Linked DNA regions of Homo sapiens: regions 2, 3, 4, 5, 6 and 7 are each reported to be linked to region 1. Evidence: microRNA targets listed by miRTarBase, many of them from high-throughput screens and not tested one by one. Region 1 holds a microRNA gene; each other region holds the end of a gene's coding sequence.

The links. Region 1 holds the annotated microRNA hsa-miR-548ah-5p (AAAAGUGAUUGCAGUGUUUG, at 858-877, shown strand). A microRNA usually pairs through its seed, bases 2 to 8, with sites in the 3' UTR of a target mRNA and lowers its output. Matches are read on the target gene's strand: a 7mer-m8 pairs with bases 2 to 8, a 7mer-A1 pairs with bases 2 to 7 and ends in A, and an 8mer does both.
Region 2: the mRNA of PCBP2 is a reported target of hsa-miR-548ah-5p. Seed matches in the 3' UTR shown: 7mer-A1 at 420-426.
Region 3: miRTarBase lists PLS1 as a target of hsa-miR-548ah-5p. Seed matches in the 3' UTR shown: 8mer at 1,161-1,168 and 7mer-A1 at 858-864.
Region 4: the mRNA of HAUS8 is a reported target of hsa-miR-548ah-5p. Seed matches in the 3' UTR shown: 7mer-A1 at 2,784-2,790.
Region 5: miRTarBase lists CLEC12B as a target of hsa-miR-548ah-5p. The part of its 3' UTR that is shown has no 7-base or 8-base seed match.
Region 6: miRTarBase lists AKAP11 as a target of hsa-miR-548ah-5p. Seed matches in the 3' UTR shown: 7mer-m8 at 1,707-1,713.
Region 7: the mRNA of NUS1 is a reported target of hsa-miR-548ah-5p. The part of its 3' UTR that is shown has no 7-base or 8-base seed match.

What each region holds. Positions count from the first base shown.
Region 1 is chr4:76,574,704-76,577,703 of GRCh38, forward strand. It overlaps MIR548AH (microRNA 548ah), which reads left to right and starts at 848; the gene lies at 848-923. All of the region lies in intron 2 of SHROOM3 (shroom family member 3), which reads left to right.
Region 2 is chr12:53,479,147-53,482,244 of GRCh38, forward strand. PCBP2 (poly(rC) binding protein 2) reads left to right here. Exons shown (of 15, transcript NM_031989.5): 15 at 260-2,016. The coding sequence ends at 296. MAP3K12 (mitogen-activated protein kinase kinase kinase 12) reads right to left here. Exons shown (of 14, transcript NM_001193511.2): 13 at 2,795-3,065; 14 at 523-2,134. The coding sequence ends at 2,036. Among named protein-coding and RNA genes, the nearest start is that of PCBP2-OT1, 16 kb to the left of the region's middle.
Region 3 is chr3:142,711,370-142,714,467 of GRCh38, reverse strand. PLS1 (plastin 1) reads right to left here. Exons shown (of 16, transcript NM_001145319.2): 15 at 2,843-2,967; 16 at 804-2,596. The coding sequence ends at 2,461. Among named protein-coding and RNA genes, the nearest start is that of TRPC1, 11 kb to the left of the region's middle.
Region 4 is chr19:17,047,056-17,050,153 of GRCh38, forward strand. HAUS8 (HAUS augmin like complex subunit 8) reads right to left here. Exons shown (of 11, transcript NM_033417.2): 11 at 2,674-3,098. The coding sequence ends at 2,818. Among named protein-coding and RNA genes, the nearest start is that of CPAMD8, 22 kb to the left of the region's middle. RefSeq lists an enhancer at 2,764-3,058.
Region 5 is chr12:10,017,951-10,021,048 of GRCh38, reverse strand. It overlaps CLEC12B (C-type lectin domain family 12 member B), which reads right to left. Exons shown (of 6, transcript NM_001129998.3): 6 at 2,253-2,718. The coding sequence ends at 2,568. The region is part of intron 2 of LOC102724020 (a long non-coding RNA gene); the gene reads left to right. Among named protein-coding and RNA genes, the nearest start is that of CLEC12B, 8.9 kb to the right of the region's middle.
Region 6 is chr13:42,318,955-42,322,052 of GRCh38, forward strand. It overlaps AKAP11 (A-kinase anchoring protein 11), which reads left to right. Exons shown (of 13, transcript NM_016248.4): 13 at 134-3,098. The coding sequence ends at 274. Among named protein-coding and RNA genes, the nearest start is that of AKAP11, 48 kb to the left of the region's middle.
Region 7 is chr6:117,706,592-117,709,689 of GRCh38, forward strand. NUS1 (NUS1 dehydrodolichyl diphosphate synthase subunit) reads left to right here. Exons shown (of 5, transcript NM_138459.5): 5 at 334-3,098. The coding sequence ends at 424. Among named protein-coding and RNA genes, the nearest start is that of NUS1, 33 kb to the left of the region's middle.

The sequences.
Region 1 (3,000 bases):
GTGAAATAAGCCAGTCACAAAAAGACAAATACTGTAAATGATTCCACTTGTATAAGGTACCCAGGGTAGTCAAATTCATACACAAAAAATGTAGAATGGCAGTTGCCACAGGTTGGGGGAGGGGAGATTAGGGAGTTTTGTTGAGTAGGTACAGAGTTTCAGTTCTGCGAGATGAAAAGAGTTCTGGACATTGGATCTACAAAAATGGGAATATACTTAATGCCACTGAAGTGCACCCTTAAAAAACGGGTATACCAGCAAACCAAATTCAATAGTACACCAACAAGATCATTCATCACAACCAAGCGGGATTTATCTCTGGGATGCAAGGATGGCTCAACATATATAAATCAATCAATACTATATATCTTCTCAATAGAATGAAGAACAAAACCAGATGATCATTTCAAGTGAAGCTGAAAAAGCATTTGATCCTTTCATGATAAACATCCCTTCATGATAAAAGTCCTTCAAAAAACTGGGTATAGGAGAAACATACTTCAACATAATAAAAGCCATAGATGACAGACCCACAACTAGTATCACACTGAATGGGAAAAAAATTGAAAGCCTTTCCTCTAAGATCTGAAGCACAACAAGGCTACCCACTTTCACTACTGGTATTCAACATAGTACTGGAAGTCCTAGCTAGAGCAATTAGACAAGAGAAAGAAAAGGCATCCAAACTGAAAAGGAAGAAAGCAAATTATTTTTATTTGCAGATAAGATGATCTTATATTTGGAAAAACCTAAAGACTCCACCAAAAAAACTAGCAGAATTGATAAACAAATTCAGTCAAGTCACAGGATACAAAATCAACATACCAAAATCAGCAGCATTTCTATTAGGTTGGTGCAAAAGTGATTGCAGTGTTTGCCAATAAAAGTAATGACAAAAACTGCAGTTACTTTTGCACCAGCCCAATATATGCCAACAGTGAACAATCTGAACAAGAAATTTAAAAAGTAATCCCATTTACAATAGCCACAAATAAAATTAAATACCCAGGAATTAACCAAATAAGTGAAAGATCTCTATAATAAAAACTATTAATATAATACACTGATGAAAGGAGTTGAAGAAGATACAAAAAATGGAAAGATATTCCATGTTCACAAATTGCAAGAATCAATATTGTTAAACTTCTCAAAAGAAGACATATAAATGGCAAACAGATATATGAAAATGTGCTCAACATCATTGATTATTAGAGAAACGCAAATCTAAACTACAATGAGATATTATATCATCCCACCCCCGTTAAAATGGCTTATATCCAAAAGACAGGCAGTAACAAATCCTAGTGAGGATGTGGAGAAAAGGGAACCCTCGTACAGTGTTGGTAGGAATGCAAATTAGTACAACCACTACGGAGAACAGTTCAAGGTTTCTCAAAAACCTAAAAAGAAAGCTACCATACGATCCAGCAATCCCACTATGGGGTATATACCCCAAAGAAAGGAAATCAGTACCTCTAAGAGGTATCTGGACTCCTGTGTTTGTTGCAACATTCTTTACAATAGCTAAGATTTGGAAGCAACTTAAGTGTCCATCAACAGATGAATGGATAAAGAAAATGTGGTACTTACACACAATGGAATATTATTCAGCCATTTAAAAAAATGAGATCCTGCCATTTGCAACAACATAGATCAAACTGGAGATCACTATGTTAAGTGAATTGAGCCAGGCACAGAAAGACAAACTTTGCATATTCTCACTTGTTTGTGGGATCTAAAAATCAAAACAATGGAACTCATGGACACAGAGAGTAGAAGGATGGTTACAGAGGCTGGGAAGGGTAGTAGGAGGCTGGTGGGGAGGTAGGGATGGTTAATGCATACAAAAAGGTAGGATGACTAATACCTACTCTTTGATAGCACAACAAGGTGACTATAATCCATAATAATGTAATTGTACATTTAAAAATAACTAAAATCGTGTAGTTGGGTAGTTTGTAACACAAAAGATAATGGCTTGAGGAGATGGATACCCCATTCTTCATGATGTGATTATTATGTGTTGCATGCCTGTATCAAAACATCTCACGTACCCCATAAATGTATACACCTACTTTATAACCACAAAAATTAAAAATTAAAATGTTAAAATAAAAAATGGGTAAGATGGTAAATTTTGTTATAAATATTTTTAATTTTTAAATTAAATTTTTAAAAATAAAAATAAAGGACTTTGGTGATTAAAGCAAAAATAAAAACTGGGTTAAAAACAGTTTAAGCAATAGGTATTGATTTGGTGAATGGTGACATGGCCAACTCAGCTGATTATTCATTGAACGTAATCCTGGAGGTTAGGGTTCAGAACTGAATACTGGAACAAATGCTCCTGGTAAACATGAGTATTTCACCAAACCTTAATTGAATTTCTGATCTACCTAAAGTATAAGAAGGAGCTGGTCAAATAGATCTGACTCTAGCGTTCCAAAAGGGTAATCGGTGTCAGTGTGTCTGTTGAGATAAAAGATAATCTATACTTGAAATTTTCGCATATCACAGGCTAAAAAGCCCTCTGTGTAAATTAATTCCTAGTGGTCTATATCTTTCTACATTAAAAATATGGGCAAATCAAATTTCCCCATCCACCAAAGGGACGAGGTGCTGGGGAAGGTCTGATTGTTTACTCTTTACTGTGTATTGTTGTCAGCAGTACATTGGTTAACTAGGAATTATTCTAAGTCCCTTCATTGCCCTGTTCTTCCAATCATTTGGCATCAGGTGAATGGTTCCAGCCTCCCTAGAGGCAGCAATAAAGGACAGGGACTGGTATTGGAAGATGGTGGGGCTGTAGACCAATACCTCTGCCTCCTGTATTATTTGTCTACCCAATAAAATAATATTCTTTAATATAACAATTCACGTTTATCAATCTTGTTAAAGGATGAATTAAAGAATCTTTAGAAAAATGCTCCAGTCTAGGTAAAATCTGAACTTATTATGCGTAACACAGGTTCAAGACAAGTCCCCTATAACTCCTTCACA
Region 2 (3,098 bases), not on the chromosome of region 1:
GGTGGAACTAAAAGAGAACATAGTTTGAGGGACATTGGATAACAAGGGCTGTTTCCCTTGGTTCTGAGGTAATAGACCTCCACATGCTTGAATTGCAAGGATTAAAGGATCATGGTACTGGTAAATTTAAGAAACCTTAAAATGTCTCCCTTGGTACTCCAGCACTGGTTATTTACTCTTCACATTTCATGAACCAGGTAGAGATGAGGTGCAGCTGAGCACTGGGGAAACTAACTGAGTTCTTGTTTCTGTGTTACAGGCTTTCCTCGGAGACGGGTGGCATGGGGAGCAGCTAGAACAATGCAGATTCATCCATAATCCCTTTCTGCTGTTCACCACCACCCATGATCCATCTGTGTAGTTTCTGAACAGTCAGCGATTCCAGGTTTTAAATAGTTTGTAAATTTTCAGTTTCTACACACTTTATCATCCACTCGTGATTTTTTAATTAAAGCGTTTTAATTCCTTTCTCTGTTCAGCTGTTGATGCTGAGATCCATATTTAGTTTTATAAGCTTCTCCCTGGTTTTTTTTTTTTGGCTCATGAATTTTTCTGTTTGTCATGGAAATGTAAGAGTGGAATATTAATACATTTCAGTTTAGTTCTGTAATGTCAGGAATTTTTCAAAAAAATTAAAAGATGGACTGGAGCTTTTTCTTTGTGAATAGAAACTGGATGCCACAGTGATTCATGTGGGTTTTATTCCTCTTGTCTTGCTGTTATTTTTGTACCTTTTATCCCTCAAAGGACCCTTCTTGGGTTTTGAATGGAAGCCTTTATTCCGGTTAAGATGTTTTCTTCTATTTTACCACTTCCATCTTTTTTTGTGGCCCTCGATCCTATTTTTCCCTGACTCCATGCTTGGTTGGCCCTTATAAAACTTGTGCCCAAAAGATTGAGGATTAGACTTTCCGAGGACTTACCTGTCCTAGGGGAGTAGGCAAGCACTTCCACTAGGGAGGGGGTGGGGGAAAGGAATGACACATGACATACATGGCATACACATTAAGCAGTTGATCATATGTCTGACTGGGTTCCAGTTTCTTGGGAATGTTGGTCCCCTTGTTCAGGCTTGCATATTTTAAACTAAAAATTTCAGTCTATTGTTTTTAGTAACTTCATTTATAGTCCTCCATAACAAGTTAGAAGGATGTATCTGCTACCATTTATTCCTATAATTTTAGAAAGTTGGGGCTTGACATTATACTCATTTAGTGAGAGTAGATGCAAAAAAGTGGAGGGGCAGGAGAACTTCTCCAGACACCTCAGATAAAGTCCGGAGCCCAAGGCTTTATCTTAACCATGTATGGTACCCCATTCATTCATCAAGAAAACCCTCAACAGCTGGGCCTGCATGGAGTGTTATATTTCAAGGTTTTTCACAGGGGTTACAGTAGGACAGTCCCCACCCCAATCAGGCACCAGGATAAAAGCAGGGACTTAAACAGCACCCCGGTTCTTCAGCCTGAGCCATCACATGCTATCAGTCTCCTAACCTCCCCCTGGGCCTTAAGACAGGGCTTGGGCAGAGAAGATAAATGGTGGGACAAAAAAATGAGTTACATTGCCACCTGAGAAACCTCAGAGGGGAGGACCCAGCCTTAGCCTCCCTCCTCCCAAGTGCAAAATGTGTAAACAGAGTAAACGGAACAGAAAAGTGCAGTCTAAGTGGTTTTCTCTCCTGCCCCTCCCACCGCCCCTCCCCCCACCCCCTATTATTTGGGGATAAAGAATATAAAGACAACCCTGGCTTTTCTATTGCCTTGTTGCTTGCTGAATATAAGGAATGGGGTGGGGCAGGAAGGGGCTTGCCCTTAGCCACAGCTCTACGGCTGTGCCTCATTCATTTCCACAGCTGCCAGTGTCCCTAGAGTTTATCAGGTGAATTGGTCAGGGGATCAGTCTCCCTCGAGCCTGACTTACGGCTGGGACAGCCCCATCTTTCTGTTGATTATGTGGCGCATATATATATATATATGTATATATATATAATTTATATAAATATTTCTCTATGTACAAGGAATACGAGTGGCTTTCATGGAGGGAGGGAAGCTGGGGGCCGCAAGGCATCAACGCTGTTGGAGTTGTCCAATTCAGTGCTGTCACAGTCTGAGTCCTCAGAATTGGGAGGGCCCTGTGAGAAAGAGTAGAAATGGAGTGAGATTCCTTGGGGTTCTTTGCTGGGGTCATTTTAATAGCCAGTGGCTTACTGATTTGTTTTTTAAGACAGAGTCTCACTCTCGCCCAGGCTGGAGTGCAGTAGCACAATCTCGGCTCACTGCAACCTCTGCCTCCCAGGTTCAAGCAATTCTTCTGCCTCAGCCTTCTGAGTAGCTGGGACTACAGGCATGCACCACCACGCCCAGCTAATTTTTGTACTTTTAATAGAGATGGGGTTTTACCATATTGGTCAGGCTGGTCTTGAACTCCTGACCTTGTGATCCACCCGCCTCGGCCTCCCAAAGTTCTGGGATTCCAGGCGTGAGTCACCATGCCCAGCCAGCTTACTGGTTTTATTCCTTCCAGATTTCAGTTGCTCAGGCCATTCTCCAAGGTGTCAGACTCCTTTCAGAATCATTCCCTGGCTGCAATTTATAGCTACATGCAAGCTACTGGTCAGGCATCGTAATAGATGCTCTGTGCAAGAGGCTTCTGAAATTCCACCACGTGGATATTTGCTCTTTATGGTACTTTCTGGCCTGTGCAGCTGTCTCCCCAAAAGCTGTTAAAAGACAAGGCATCTGCTTACAGCTCTCCCTGTTCAATATCTGCTTTTTGCTGTTGTGCCACTCACCCGCTCTCTGAGAAGTTCCTGGTGTGGAATGGGCAGGGAGCTGGGTTCAGGGCCAGGGATGACCTCTGAAGGAGGTGGGTCCAGTGGGATTTCTGAGCCCTGGGAGCACATGTCATCAGACCGCTCATCTGGCCGCTCATCAGTGTTGGTGCTGCCAACTTCAGGTGTGCCACTGGGGGAAGGTTCACTAGCTGTGCCTTCCTCCCCATCTGATGGATTCTCTGAGCTGAAGGTAGATAGTGACTGGCGCATGTTCAGGCTCTGAGGCCACCTACATGTTGAAGAGGGGGATTACAGCTTGGTT
Region 3 (3,098 bases), not on the chromosome of region 1:
GGCAGAGTTATGATGAACAGTAGCATCCAAGATTCAGAAGCAGCATATTACTTCAAGCAGCTTACCCAAACCACATATACAAAAGAGCAGTCATGACTCCAGTCAGAGAAGAAAAAAAAAAATCCAGATTTAGATCTAGTCCTACAATACCCTAGACTCCATCTCCATCTCCAGACTCTGCCTCTCCCTCAGTACTCTCAGGTCATGTTCACCTGTTTGTCTTCTAGGATGCCTACAGGACTGCCTGCTTCAGGTTCTTTACATTTGTTCTCTCTGCTGAACACTTATAGCACAAATATCCTTAGAGAGACCTTCCCTGACCACCCAAATACAAATAATCTCCACTCCATTTCCCAAGTCAGTCTCTATCACATTACCTTATGTTATTTCTTCTACTGCATTATCACTGTCTAAAATTCCTATTTACGAATTGTCTCTCTACTAGGATATCATACATGGATGTGATACATGAGGTCAGGAGACTTCATCTGTATTTTTTTCAGATGAATCCCCAGTGTCTAGCATAGTATCTGGATCATAATAAATGATAAATTTGTGAATGGATTGATTCACCTGAATTATTTCAGCACAAACTAAATTGTAGTAATCACACAGTTGGTTTTTAATAATTCTTCATATTTAAGAACAAAAGAACTACCCTCATCTTCAAAGAAATCAGACACAATTTTTTTTTTGTTTTACTAACTCATTTAGGAATTCTTTTCTTTTCTGGAAAATAAGCTTATGCTAGACTAATTTTCAAGGCTGAATATTTTTCTTCAAATGAAATAAATATAAACACATTTCTATATACACAGCATTTTTATTAAATATACTCTGTGAGAAAAAGAACACCCTAAAGTGCCAGATTTCATGTAAATCCAATAACTTAGTAAATACAATGGTGAAAAAAAATCAGAGGGAAACATAATTTAAATAATCTTATAAAAGAGCAAGAACATATCTTAATCTTAAGAAAACAATCATCAAAATATAAAAGGGAAAGAAATCTCTTTTGTAGAAGAATATATTTCAAATTCCACCTGTTGATCATTTCATTTAAAAAATTCTATTCTAAACACATGGGCAGTCTCTCTTACCAATATATATATTTAAATCAATGGTAGAAAGGGAATTTAGACTACTCATTCACACTGAGATAAAGTGACATTTTTGTTGCACAACAGTATTGCTCACTGGCACTAACAGTGGAAGATGGAGAAAGTAGATTTCTGGATTCAATTGTTAGCAGCAGAAATGGACTAATGCTAAAAATTTAGAAAAAAATAGTCCAAGCTGTAGCGATTTCCAAGTAATACAAACATTAACCAAACATTGCCAATTTGTAACGGGCTGTGAAAAACATATGAAAATACTCTACATTGAATACTAGCTTTATGTTACTTTCTATTAAAGATATTCAGTGGGCATATTCTAAATTATATAGGGCTTCTATAGAGACCTAAACTAGCAAGTATAATATGAAGCTAACAGGACAGTGTCAGCATATCTTGGGATGTTCTAGCCAATGTTTGGCTACAAGTATTTGGAAGGGGTCAAATAACTATATGCACATTCAAAATGAATACTTATAAAAAGAAATCTTAATGTATCAGATATCCACAGACTGAAAAGTGTTACACATGTTGTGGGGGGAAAATACTGATGGTTGGCTGAATGACCAATTAAACATACCACTTATGAAAAGCTGGGTGATTCAGGTGCAAAAAAATATATATGCACACATATCTCTCTAATAACATCCTACCAACATATATATGTTGCATGACATAGTTAAAGCTGTGTTACCAAACTAGGATGTGTAAAGTATCAATGTAGTTAAAATTAAATTTTAAGTAAAAAGCTGCTGCTACTTAAACAAGAGAGTGAACTTTGGGGTTTATTCAAGAATTAGTTCTCATATATAAAAAAGTTTGATATTAATAAACAATTCTGGTCACCATAAGGTTTTAGACAGTATAGAAACTTACAGAAAAGTGTTTTTGGACCACTTTAAATAGTTGGAGGAAGCAAATAAAAGGATTAAACTGGATTATGAGTATGAATGCATTTATGATCAAAATTAACACACCAAAAAAATCAAACCACATTTCACAGCAGAACCTGCAAAAACGTTTGTATTCATCTTTTTTGAACCATAAAAAAGAATGATTTAGTCTTGTCTAATACGACTTTTAAGCAACAAAAATAATTTAATCATGAAGTATCAGCTTGATTATGAATATATTCTATTATCTGTATCAGTTGGTAAATTAACTGTGTTACCCAAAAAGGCTGACCAGCTCTAACTAGTATGAACAGGATATTGAATTCATTAATGAATATATAACTATTTTGAGCATACAAATAATCTCTGGTTTTACACCCACTACATTTCAGAATCCTGTAAACTGTGAGGCATACAATATGTTTAATGTGGCAGAAAATCATATGAAATGATTATTTTATTCTGTTCAGTCCTTTTCCCATTAAGCATGCAAACACCGTCATAACCATCTTTGGTTTCACTTCTACGAGGTCATCAGGTAATGCATATATCCGGGCACCGATCTTTCGAGCAACTGAAATGGCGTATCTTGAAGAGACAAGAAAAATATCTTGGTGTTATCCACTGTGTTTTCACTTAACATATTTTAACAAAAGAGTGAAATATTTTGACAAGATTAGTTTTACGAAAAGGTTAAGTTTGTGAGTCTTAAATCTAAGACTCACATATAAGTTATATTTAAAAATATGAATTTTAAGGGCATAGTAACTTTTCCTATAAGGATTTTAGAGAATTAAAGGGCCATGTATTGTAATATAAACCATAAAGGCTTACTTAGCATTGTTCAGCTTGTCCTCATCAGATAAGTTTTCTCTCCTGATCATTTCTTGACGAACTGCATTTGGTGCAATGGCATCTATTAAATCTAGGACAGGTAAACTTGTGCTTATAGATTTATCCTAGAAAATAAAGCATAGATGAACATTCATAAACATCTGACCTTTAATTTTCATTATTTTCAGACTCTTCTGATCATATAACTGAAGGCAATCTACAAATTCTTTGTACTTAACCTAACGTTCAGCTTTTC
Region 4 (3,098 bases), not on the chromosome of region 1:
TGTAGTCCCAGCTACTCGGGAGGCTGAGGCAGGAGAATTGCTCGAACCCGGGAGGTGGAGGTTGCAGTGAGCTGAGATCACACCATCATACCACTGCACTCCAGCCTGGGTGACAGAGTGAGACTCCATCTCAAAAACAAACAAACTGGGTCTCACTCTGTCGCCCAGACTGGAGCGCAGTGGTGCAAACGTGGCTCACTGCAGCCTCGACTTCCTGGGCTCAAGCGATCCTCTCACCTTAGCTTCCCAAAGTGCTGGGATTACAGGTGAGAGCCACTGTGCCCAGCCTTATCCTTCCTTTCTATATTGCCCGTGGTTGCTTTTGTGCACCAAGGTCAATCCAAAAAATAATTGAGTCAGTGAGACACAGACCATCTGGCTTTACTTCCTTGTAGTCACAACTCTGGGGATTCTAAGTCTGACCATCCTAGCCCCATGGCCAGGGATGTCAGGAGATGATGGTGGTCATTTTGAGCAGTAGGTTCCCTTGCAAGCCATGGGAGGACACAGGCTGTGTCCAGGACACATCCCCTGGAGGCGTGGGTGTGGAGACCATGAGCCGAATTCATTCATTATCTAAAATCAAACTCAATTCTCATGAAGTAGGGACGTCAGCCTTACAGAGTCGGGCATGTGCCGCCCATTTCCACCTGTGGGTGGAATCCACCACTCCTGTTGACTCTCAGCGGTGCCCGGCTTAGATGATAGATTCTAGGGTCTCTGCTGTTGGAGGTCAAGACTGTGATGTAATGAAGTATTTTTTTCAATGTGTGTCCTGTGGCAGTGCCCAATTCAGAAAACATAGAGCAGGATTTTAGTTCCAAATGAGTCAAGTTTTATATGTTAAGACATCGCTTGTTAATCTTGCACATAACATCTATCATATTCATATGCTGCCTAGTCTTGGGTTTTTGTTTTTTTTTAAATCTGAGTCTCACTCCGTCACCCAGGCTGGAGTGGCAGTGGTGTGATCTTGGCTCACTACAATCTCTGCTTCCTGTGATCAAGTGATTCTCCTGCCTCAGCCTCCAGAGTAGCTGGCACTACAGGCACGTGTCACCACGCCCAGCTAATTTTTCTATTTTTAGTAGACAGAGGGTTTCACCATGTTGGTCAGGCTGTTCTCAAACTCCAAACCTCAAATGATCTGCCCGCCTTGGCCTCTCAAAGTGCTGGGATTACAGGCATGAGCCACCGTGCCTGGCCCAAAGACATCCTCTTTTATCTGCTCATGTGGATTTAATGATATCCCCTTGGGGTATAATAAAAACTTCTTTGGTCTTTGTCCACAGTTCCTGGCACGTAACTCCTAAATCCCTAGAATGGACATTCATTCATAGGATGAACGAAGGTGTTAAGATGAGACAGCACTATGGGCCAGGCACGGTGGCTCGCAACACTTTAGGAGGCTGAGGTAGGCAGGTCAGTTGAGGCCAGGAGTTGGAAAGCAGCCTGGCCAATATGGTGAAACCCCATCTCTCCTAAAAATACAAAAATTAGTTGGGTGCAGTGGTGCACACCTGTAGTCCCAGCTACTTGGGAGGCTGAGGCAGGAGAATTGCTCGAACCCAGGAGGCAGCAGAGGTTGCGGTGAGCCGAGATCATGTCACTGCACTCCAGGCTGGGCGACAGAGCAAGATTCTGTCTCAAAATTAAAAAAAAAAAAACAAACAGCACTATGGAAGCGTTGGCTGAACTGAAGCAACTGCGTGGGGTCCCTCAATATTAAAGGGCTCCAGACAAGTCTGCTGTATTTGCCCCAGTTTGCAGAAATTTTAAAAGCTGAAGGCAGACACTACAACATGAAACCCAACCTGGACTCACTGGGGACAACCAGGCAGATTCGTCGCACTCCAGCCCAGAAGACAGAGCAAGCCCTGTCTAAAACCAAACAAAGACAAACCAGGCAACAAAACCCACACCTCCAGCAATACGAATTGGAAATGTGACCTGGGGATCAGTAAGTTCCCAAAGCCCACACCGCGTGGGGTGGAAGCTGGAGAGCTGGTTGGAGGAAAATGTTCTGGGCCAAAGTCCCAGTGGAGCACAGATGGGGTTTATGGCAAGAGCCTGAGCATCTCCCAGTGACAACTACCGAGACTGGAACTGAAATATGTCCCCTCCAGTCGAGGTGCGGGATGCCGGGACCCAGTGGTGGACGTCCTGGAGGGCGGGACCCAGGGTTCCCTGGTGGAGGTGTGGAAGGACGAGACCCTGCAGTCTCTCAAGCTGCCAGCGAGATGGGGACCCAGAGACCTCCCGAAGCTGCCAGCAAGGCAGGGACCCAGCAGTTTCTCAAGGCTGCCTGGGACCCAGTTGCCAGATTACGAAGGCATCTCAGGCCCTGGAGCCAGAGCCAGTCGGGTTAAAGTGGAAGCTCCCTACTTCAGCCCCAGAAGCTGGGGCCAGGGGAAGGATGATGTGGATTGTTCTTGTTTTACCCCTTCTGTTGAATGTTTACAGACACAAACTTGAGTTCCAATAAAGAATTGCATTTCCCTAAAAAAGTAAATAAAGTATGTCCACTCGAGGGACAATTCTTAACTTGCTGTCCCAAAACCACCCTTGTGACTGAAGGACATGAAATCATCTTGAAAGTGGGATACTGGGCATGTCGTGGAGGCCCGGAATTTCAGGACCAGTCATCCAGAAGAACTTGAGAAAACACAGGTCTTCCAACTGGCCCCTTCATAGAAAATGGAGGCTTCAATTGCAAAACAGGTTTACTTTTTTATCAAACAAGATTATCACATAAAAAATAGCTACAGTGCTACGGTAGTATATAAAGTGCTCAAGTATCCTGAATGTAACCATGAGTCATGACAAGTCCCTCCCTGAACGAGAGAGAGAGGGCGGGACTTCTGCCTGGCTGCTTGAAGAAAAATCTTCGCTTGGGCTGATGAACGTGGCCTGAGCGGGGGCTGACGAGGCACCCGGGTTGTCGTCCTCAGACAGGGGCGTGTTCTTGGGTGCTCCCCCAGATTCTCTGCAGGCACTGTCTTGATTGAAATACCACCGGCTGGGGGGCGCCATGCCCTGGGTCTCTTCCCAGACTTCCTGGTTTGCCAAGGCTGCCTCTTTGCTTGCCTCTGCGGAGA
Region 5 (3,098 bases), not on the chromosome of region 1:
TGGGGTTGGTGGGGATGCTACACACTTTTAAACAACCGGATCTTGCGAGAACTCGCTATCATGAGAACAGCACCAAGAAGATGGTGCTAAGTCATTCATGAGAAATCTGCTCCCATAACCCAATCACCTCCCACCAGGCCCCACAACCAGCATTGGGGATTACATCTTGACATGTGATTTGGTAAGGACACAGATCCAAACCATATCAATGGTCTTTCCCCTAAAAATATACCATTTGTATATACCTGTATATATAAATAAAATATCTCAGGGATTTTGACTGGAGAGGGTGTAGGGGCAGTAGGAGAGGAAGAAAGAAAGAAAAAGAAAGAGATGAAAATTTCTGGAATCAAGTCCTGTCTCATAAGCTAAGTTATCAGAATCAAAGGATGAAGTATTCTGACACAAAGGGCTAGTGAATCTTGAGAACTCTGGATTTATGCATCTACTGTAGAGGTCGTCAGGGATAATATGATGATAGCAGGGCAGCAGGGAGGGAGCTCTTAGTAATAGGAGCTGATCAAGATCCAGAGCACTGTAAGGTCAGAAACAGAAATTTTCTTTTAATGAGTATAAAAGAGTTTACATGAAATGAGAATTAAAATATACAAGATACCAGAAAAAAAAACCTGTAACTTCTTAATAGGAACAAAATAACCAACTAAGGTATTTTAATTATTAAAAGTAGATTTTTTTAATTAGAAATAGAGGAATGAAAGAACTTATTTTTCTCATGGGAATAAAACGAAACCCAAATGTGTGAGAGTCAGAGGCACAGATTTTGACCTTTAAGAAATAATTTTATCTTTGTGAGAATGCCAGGGGCAAACTGCTAAAGAGAAATGGAAGAATCAAGTTTCTTCTTTAATCCATGTGTATATAACTTATGTTTGAATCCCGTATAAGAACTAAGAAACACTGTTTACTTGAACTATGATAATTGTCTGTATTTAAAAAGTTGTGCTTAAATATATTGTTTGTAATTTTTACTAAATTTTCACACTTGACATTTTTCCTTTGTTCTAGAGTTTCTGTTGGTGCCTATATAAAACATTGATTAGTTGATAATTTTAAATATTTAGAGAATAAGAAGCTACTAGATGGTATGTATGAAGTGGTAGTTTCAAAGGACTGTCAAAGTATTGAAATGCATCTAACTTTGAATTTAGATTATATCAATTTTCCAGTAAATTCTAGATTTCTGATCTAGCAAAATCAGTATCAAAGGCTAATTTATCATTATTTTCTTCCTATATATAGCTATGGAACTATGTGAAGATAAATGGAAAACTACATCCTTTACCAGTACTCTGAAATCAGCAATTTTGTTCCAGGAAAAATCTTGAACCCTAGATTTACAATATTTAGCATCTAGTGTGCAGGAACACTGACAAACTGTGATTCAGGAAAGGTCTAAATAATTAAAGATAATGGTTCTTCTATTTTGATGTCTTCAAACAGTTTATTAGGACTTTTCTGAGGGAAACAAAATATCAATTGTAAGAGAATATATTTTTATAATAATACCCAGATTACAAAATCAATAACATCAATATTACTAATTTAAATAAATGACAAACACATAAATATTGGCCAGGGGCAGTGGCTCACACCTGTAATCCCAGGATTTTGGGAGGCTGAGGCTGGCAGATAGCTTGAGCCTAGGTGTTTGAGACCAGCCTGGGCAACATGGTGAAACCTCGTCTCTACAAAAAAATACAAAAATTAGCTGAGCATGGTGTTGCATGCCTGTGGTCCCAGGTATTCGGGAGGCTGAGGTGGGAGGGATCGATTGAGCCCAGGAGATTGAGGCTGCAGTGAGCCAATCACATCACAATACTACAGCCTAGGCAACAGAGTGAGACAGTGTCTCAAAAAAAAGTAAATATTAAATTATTATGCCTAGATTATAAATTATCTAAATTTTAAAGATTAATAAGAACGCTTATTTTCATAGGGTTGTTGGAGAAGAAAAGCTATTTTGCAAGTGCAGGGCGACACTTAGCTGGTTCACAGTGGTACAAACATTTGCTAAAATAAAATATTTCCAAATCAGTTGATACAGTGCTGCAGCCCCAGCTACCAGGACCCTTAGCCTGGGATCCCCCAGACCTCCACATGACCCAGCAACTATCACAACAGGCATCTCTTGGACCTTGTTCTAGTGCTGTGGCCTGTGTTTTTAAATATTTAAATATCACCCTAGTTTTTAAATATTTAAATATCACCCTAGTGCACACGTGACAGTATAATAATAATGAAAGAAAGGAGTCTTTATTTGAGAAAGCAAAGAAATTCAGTGAAATGATTCTGAGACAATCATAGGGCCATAGTATGGCTATTCCCCTTTGTCCCCAGGTATAATTTTAAGACCGAATAATAACATCAAATCAGAAGACGTCAGACAAGGAACTGGAGAATGTTCTGTTAAACAAGTTCATTTGTCTGATAATGTAAATACACAGTCATTTTAAAAGCTGGTTTGGCTCTGGTACCGTAGTTTCCTCTTTCCTCATATGAGCTTACTCACAAGTCTCTTACTTCTTGGAGAATTTGGAAGAAGCATACTAATCCAAATCCTCAGTCTTCACTGGGGCAGCTGTCTTCTCGCAAATCCAAAAAATTTCAGCACTACAGCGAGAAATATAAATATTTCCTTTTTGAAAATAAGCACATCCTTTGGATCCATTGATCTGGTCAAGTTCTTTAGTACTAAATCTGAAAATTAATTTAAAATTAATTATAAATTCTGTATTTGAAACGTGATCACTATTTAGTGCCCTCAGTTGCTCTTACAGCCAATGTCATGTATCTGAATATGGAGAGACTTCTGCCTCCACAAAGCTTCAAAATCTGAAGCTGCCTAAAGCTGGCACAAAATCTGCCCAGAGCTGGCACATCTGGGTTCTTTATTTTAAGTTAATCATAATCCCAGGTAGAATTCTTTAAGAGAAATACTTAAATCCTGGACTGAGAATTTGTATTTCCTTCATAAATATGTAATTCCATTAATGAAATCTAATCAGTTCAGCTTATATTAGAAGTACTTGAAGTTCTTTGGGACCTTATGAAGAAAAACATAAAAATAAAATCACATT
Region 6 (3,098 bases), not on the chromosome of region 1:
TTGTTATAACTAGGAAACGGTATTTAATTGTAAACAGCAGGATTCTTAAGTTTCAGCTAATATTGAAAATAAAAATAAAAGCTTTGTTATAAAATTGTTTTTGGTTAATGTTTGACACATCTTTCTTTCTTAGCTTTCAAAACAATTACAAGAGAAAGGATGGAAAGTGGGAGACCTCCTGCAGGCTGTGCTTCAATACTATGAAGTGATGGAAAAAGCTTCCAGTGAGGAGAGATGCAAGTCGCTGTTTGATTGGCTCTTGGAAAATGCATAGAGCAAACCCCAAACCAGTATATTTTAGTATTTGTTTGGGGAGGGGAACAAGCCAATAAAGATGTTTAGGATAAAATTTGAATAGTGAATATTAACATCGTAAGTCAGTTGGGAGGCAAGTAAATATAGCTTTCTGAGCGCTTTGTGTTATCACTCGGTGTATATAGTTCATACTTTTGTAATCTGTCAAAATACTACCTTCATTTATTCTTCTATACACATGTGTAGTGTGTCAAGACCCTAAGAACATGTATTTGAAGGAAGGTCTAACCAGGGGGTTTTCAGGGGCATTGTCTGACCACATTCTTTTTGTATCCAAATAGTGCTGCTAGAAACTGCACTGAAGTGGCTGAGGATAGGTTCCAGTGATAGAGTTATAATTTTGCTCCTTTGCAAACAAATGGTATCTAATTAATAACTAGTCTGACATCAGAAAATAAAATTGAGGCTGATTTTTAAAAATTTCTAGTAGATTTTTGGCCTTTCCTGTTTTTAAAAATCAGTTTCATTTTCATATTTCATAGATCAGCTATTGGTAGCTTTTTGATTTCCCCAAACTATTTAATTTCTTAGCAGAAACATTAGTATTTTAGGTTTCTATAAACACTATAAGTGATAGTTTCCCCCATCCTTTCATTGACATTATTTGCCAATGCTGCCAGTCATTCTGGCATGAAAGGTGTGTGTGTGTGTGTGTGTGTGTGTGTGTGTGTGTGTGTGTGTAAGGGAGTACTTTAACCTTGCCAGTTTGTTCCCTCTTTTATTTTACTGTTTTCTTTTTAGAAACCCACTGTTAAAATTTAAAAAGGTGCTTTAAAATAAAACGCCTATAAAGATTGTGCAGTAAGAATTTTTATTGACAATAATTAAAATTTTTTTTGACAATTTTGGGTTCCCAACTTATCTTACAAGTGAAAACTTAAATTGTAAAACATGTTGAAATTTTAAAAATTAATGTTAATATGGAAATGCATTTAGAGAAGCCCAGTAGTTTTTATTGTTGGATTTTTGAAAAAACCTCTACCAAGAATGTGGTGTTTTTTTTGTTTGTTTGTTTGTTTGTTTTAGAAAAATTGGGATTTCCCCCCACCCCGCCCCACCCAGATAAACTATATCTACACTGTCTCGTCAAGTTCTCTGACACGATCTTTCTGGGCTCTACATTTCCTACTAGTTTGTGTCCAGAAACTGCAAGTTGACATGAATAGAGGACAAAGGTTGTGTCTTGCTTTTGTCTCTCTCTTCCCTCCCTGCAACTCTCTCTCCCCTCCTCCCACTCTCTTCCCCCTCCCCCCTCCTCCCACTGTCTCTCACCTCCCCCACCCCCCACTCTCTCTCATCTCTCGCTGTGTCCTGTGTATGTGTGGGTGTGTGTGTATTTGGGTGTGTAAATGTTGGTTCTTCCACTACTGGATTTTGTAATCTAGGATAAATCACTTTTTTTGGGGACTTTGATTTTGCTCCATTACGTTTTCATTTTTTCTGAGCACTGACTGTTCTGAAAGCTGCACAAAACGTAGAAAGAAGACATAGCGCCTGCCAGGGAATAGGAAATGAGGGCACTTACACATTAATGTGAATTAGTAATTGTGGTATAGAAATGTTTTATAGTGAAAGATTCAAATTTGCTTTTCAAGAAAAATGCCAAAAGCTATTTAAATAATTCGAGGTTACATCGTAGGTTTTGATTTTTCTCAATTTAAGATACAGAAATACAGCAAGCCTTAATATAAAGTTTCCTAAAGTTTCTTCAAGTATTTTTTAAGGTGGAGAAATGCAGGAATTGTATAACCAGAATTGTTCCTGCCTTTAGCTTTTCAGAACTTGAGATGTGGCAGCACTGGACTGGGTTTTTTTAAATGTTAGGACTAGGAATGTTTGCTCTTGTTAATTATGAATTAATTGATTATTAAGTTTAGAATGCATTTTTACAAGTATCTAACTATCAAATTGTGTTTAGTAACTTGAGTGTATGCACAAGTTTGATCAACAGCAAAATAGAGTTCTGAATTTCTTTTAAAGTGATGATATATTATTTTGTGAAACTTTGTGTTTGAAAATGTTTATTTCTGTTTATGGTGTAATCATTCTGAGGTGAGGCTTTTCTTATTTCCTTTGCATTTTGCTAGAGCTGTGCTGAGTTCAGCATTTGCTTATTTAACCACTACATAATGACAGACCAGTTATTAGGTATTAGCATGTGTGGTAATAATAATAGTGGAACTTCACACTTACATCAATTCAGTGCAGGGGCATAGAATAAAATATTAAATATTGGCAGATGTATGAAAAGAAGTGTGAGTTAAAAATATTGAATATTGGCAGGTGTGAAAACAAGTGTCAAAATTCCTCATATAGAGAAAATAATTTTGAGTTTAGAGTATTATCTTTTAATTAAGTGTAGTCTAAACTTAACTTTCTGTAAAGGCACTTTGTGGTTTTTCCAAAGATGTTCTAGATCTATTTGGTTGCTCTATAGTCAAACAGCTCTTTTGAAGACAACTGTCTTATTTTATTACAAATTGGCTTGACATATTTATACTGTAACATTGTAATATTGCTGTGCTGTACATTTTGGCCCTTACGAAATACGTCTTTTTCAGAACTGTTAAAGTTTTGATGTACATCGAGCTGAATTCTGTTTTTACCAGTTTCAAAACCTTCAAGTGATATGTGGAAAAAAGTGAATGAGACCTCTGATAGGGGGTTTTCAGAACCTTGTTCACACCAAAATGTGACAGTTCTTTCATGTTTTCCTAAACCAAGTTAAAATTACATGTATATTTTGGTGTTAAGGTTGATTTTTAAGATACTTCTGATTTGTA
Region 7 (3,098 bases), not on the chromosome of region 1:
TAGTAGAATTGTTTGGCATATTCTGCTTATAATTTACCCTCAGAGCAGAGGGAATAGCTATCTTCAATGAACACTCGTCAATAAACAGTGAGTGCCACTACCCCTCGGTGCCTCAGAGGCTCTCTGCTATTTCCCAGTCAGTTCTGTCAGGGCCCCACCCTTTCAGTCTACATATTATGATTAAGACATTTTCCGTGCCTGTCATGGTGCTGTCTGGTGGAGGATAATTTGGTGTATTCTATTCTTAACTTCTTTTTGGTCCTTATCTTCTGGTTCCCCCCTACATTACAGTGTATATCTAATTGCTTTTCTCCCCCCGTGTTTTCTTTTCAGCTCTTTGCCTTCCCACCTAAACATCAGTTATGAGGACTTTTTCTCTGCCCTTCGTCAATATGCAGCCTGTGAACAGCGTCTGGGAAAGTAGTGGTCATTGGTTGCATAATTTGATTTGAGGCTTGTGGAGGAAAGGAACCAAGTGACTCTGATGTTTACAAAGCACCTATGAAACCCTGTACACACCTAGTTCATAATCCTCATAATTTATCAACAAACACAAAAAAGTGTCTTACTTGAGAGTGAGTGTGTGTGTGTGCGTGTGCACGTGCACACATGTGCACGTTTGTATGTATGGAAATAAACTTATAAATGGGGACGTATTGGAGAAGGAAATACATAGACCTACAACTTTGAGCAAATAGCAGTGATGTTTTAGGAACTGAAATGTCACACTTAAAGTCTTCAGCCCAGCTACTTCCCTATTTTTGTGGGGAGAAGAGGGCCTGATTAGAACTGTTCTGGTTGTGTTTGGCGGGAGGGGAATAATTTTTGTTCAGTCCTTCTTAGTGACCAAACTTTAATTTTTAAGAATAATATATTGACTTACTGAACTGAAGCATTCTGAGTTGAAAGGAGCTCCAGAGGAGTGGAGTTCTGTGTTGCTCACATGTTAAAATCTTGCTCACCTTCAGAGCAGAGGGAATACCTATCTTCAGATATCCGTCCATTTTCATCTCTTAATTGTAGTCAAAAGTATGACTTGAGAGTGTTGCTCTGGTATTCTGGGTTCTGAAGTCTGGTATTCTGGTATTCTGGGTTCAAAAGTATGACTTGAGAGTGTTGCTCTGGTATTCTGAGAGTTGCTCTGTATTCTGGGTTCTGAAGATTATTTGAAAAATAACTCCTACTACATTGAAATGCAGACTTAAAAATTTAAACATTGGATTAGGCAGTCAAAAAAACCAAGCAAGCATAAAAGGTCAATAAGTTGTAATCTTGATAGTAAAGGTGGAAAACTTATTATAAATGGAAAGAAAGTTTTATTTCCTTTTTTGTTTGATGGGCAGTATGCCATATTATACCCAAAGTTCTTTTAAAAAATATTTCCATCAACCATTTTTATTTAAAATAAACATTTGAGGGAAGTTACCAAGGCAGCTTTTTTCCTCAAAAGTAACCTGTTCCTCTTTGGAATAGCACATTTTAGGGGCATGGTTAATACCTGAGATTTTTACTCAGTAAATCCTGATGGTTACTGTGTGTAAAATATCTTTAAGTAGGATTGAAGGCCTCTGTGGGGGAATAAAATATTACCAAAGTCTATAAAAATAAATTTTACATGTTCTCTTTTATGACAGAGAGCAGCACTGGTTCTGTTATTTTTAAAATGAATAATTGATTTCTTGATAGGTGTTTAATATTTCTTCCCTCACTGCTGATTCTTAGATAGAAACCATTCTTTATATTTGATAGACTGCTTTCAGAAAACCCTTATCAACAAGTGTACAATACTTATCTAAAACTATACATTTAGAATGGAGCAGTTTAATACTAGATCTCAGAAGTTTTGAAAAATAGCAAAGAAGACTGGATTTGGAAAGCATGGTCTACAATTGGTTGTTAAATTCTGAAGCTATGAAGAATAAATGTTTCAACTTTGGATTATGAAACCCCATTTATGATTTTTTAAATACACTTGAAATAAAAATGATTAAACTAAATTTTGGTCCAGTGACATTACTTTGCACTGCATAATCCATTATACGTTGTACGACTTTTTTTTTTTGTTTTAATTTATTACTGAGAGTTTTGTGTGAAGCTACAGCATATCTAACCAGAGAATTTCTGATTCCTTATACTGTGATTATATTATATTGAGGCATTTGTAGTGCAGCTGAAGACTGAATTTATGCCTTTTGTAAACATGATAGGTATAAATGTCTTATAAACATTCTGGAGTATGTATAGCTTTAATGAATGAAATTTAATGGACCTGATTAAAATGAAGGGATTTAATCGTTGTTAAAGTTAAGTTAGTCAAATAAATTACCTACTGGAATATAGCCCAAGCCAGTAAAGGTTTAATATTTGCATTTTCGTGCTTTTATTTTCTCCTTCCATTCATAAGTATATACTTGAAAGTACATCTGTAGCCTATGATTTGAGTCTCTTGAAGTTCTAGGAAGAGGCAAACTACAAACTACTAGGATTCTGATTTCAGATGTAGTCATTCCAGAACCTTCTCTTTATGAGTTCACCTGCTAGTACAATCTCCACAACTTGAATGGCATTGGTTGTTCTGTAATTCCTGCCAAAAGCATCACAAGTTGTACATCATCAAGGCTCCCTTTGCACTCCCAAGAAGAACTGGTAATTTTAAACAAAAGTATGTGTCTTTATTTGTATTGGAAAATACTGTCTTTAAATTGTTTCTTGTTGACACTCCCCACAATGGAAAAATTACCGAATTAAACCTGTTTTATGGATGGCAGCTTGGAGCATAGCAAGAAGTTGGAGGATTTGAATTCCATTCCCAGTTCTCATTGTGTTTTGTTTCTTAAAACTATAATAATCGGTTACTGTTATAAAGTTTAAAAGGTGGTTTTAATGTGAATAGCAAATTCTGGTATATCGTGACTAACGCTTAAGAATGCCTGTCTTTGAGAGGAAGGTGTTATAATATTAATGAACAGTGCCAAATACACTGTGCATATCTGCAATTTAATCTTTGAATGTATGTTACTGGATTAGCTCCCTCCTCCTGTGTGATGGTACCATGCATAGAGTCAATCAAATCCTTGTGATGTTTTGTATGGACTTTG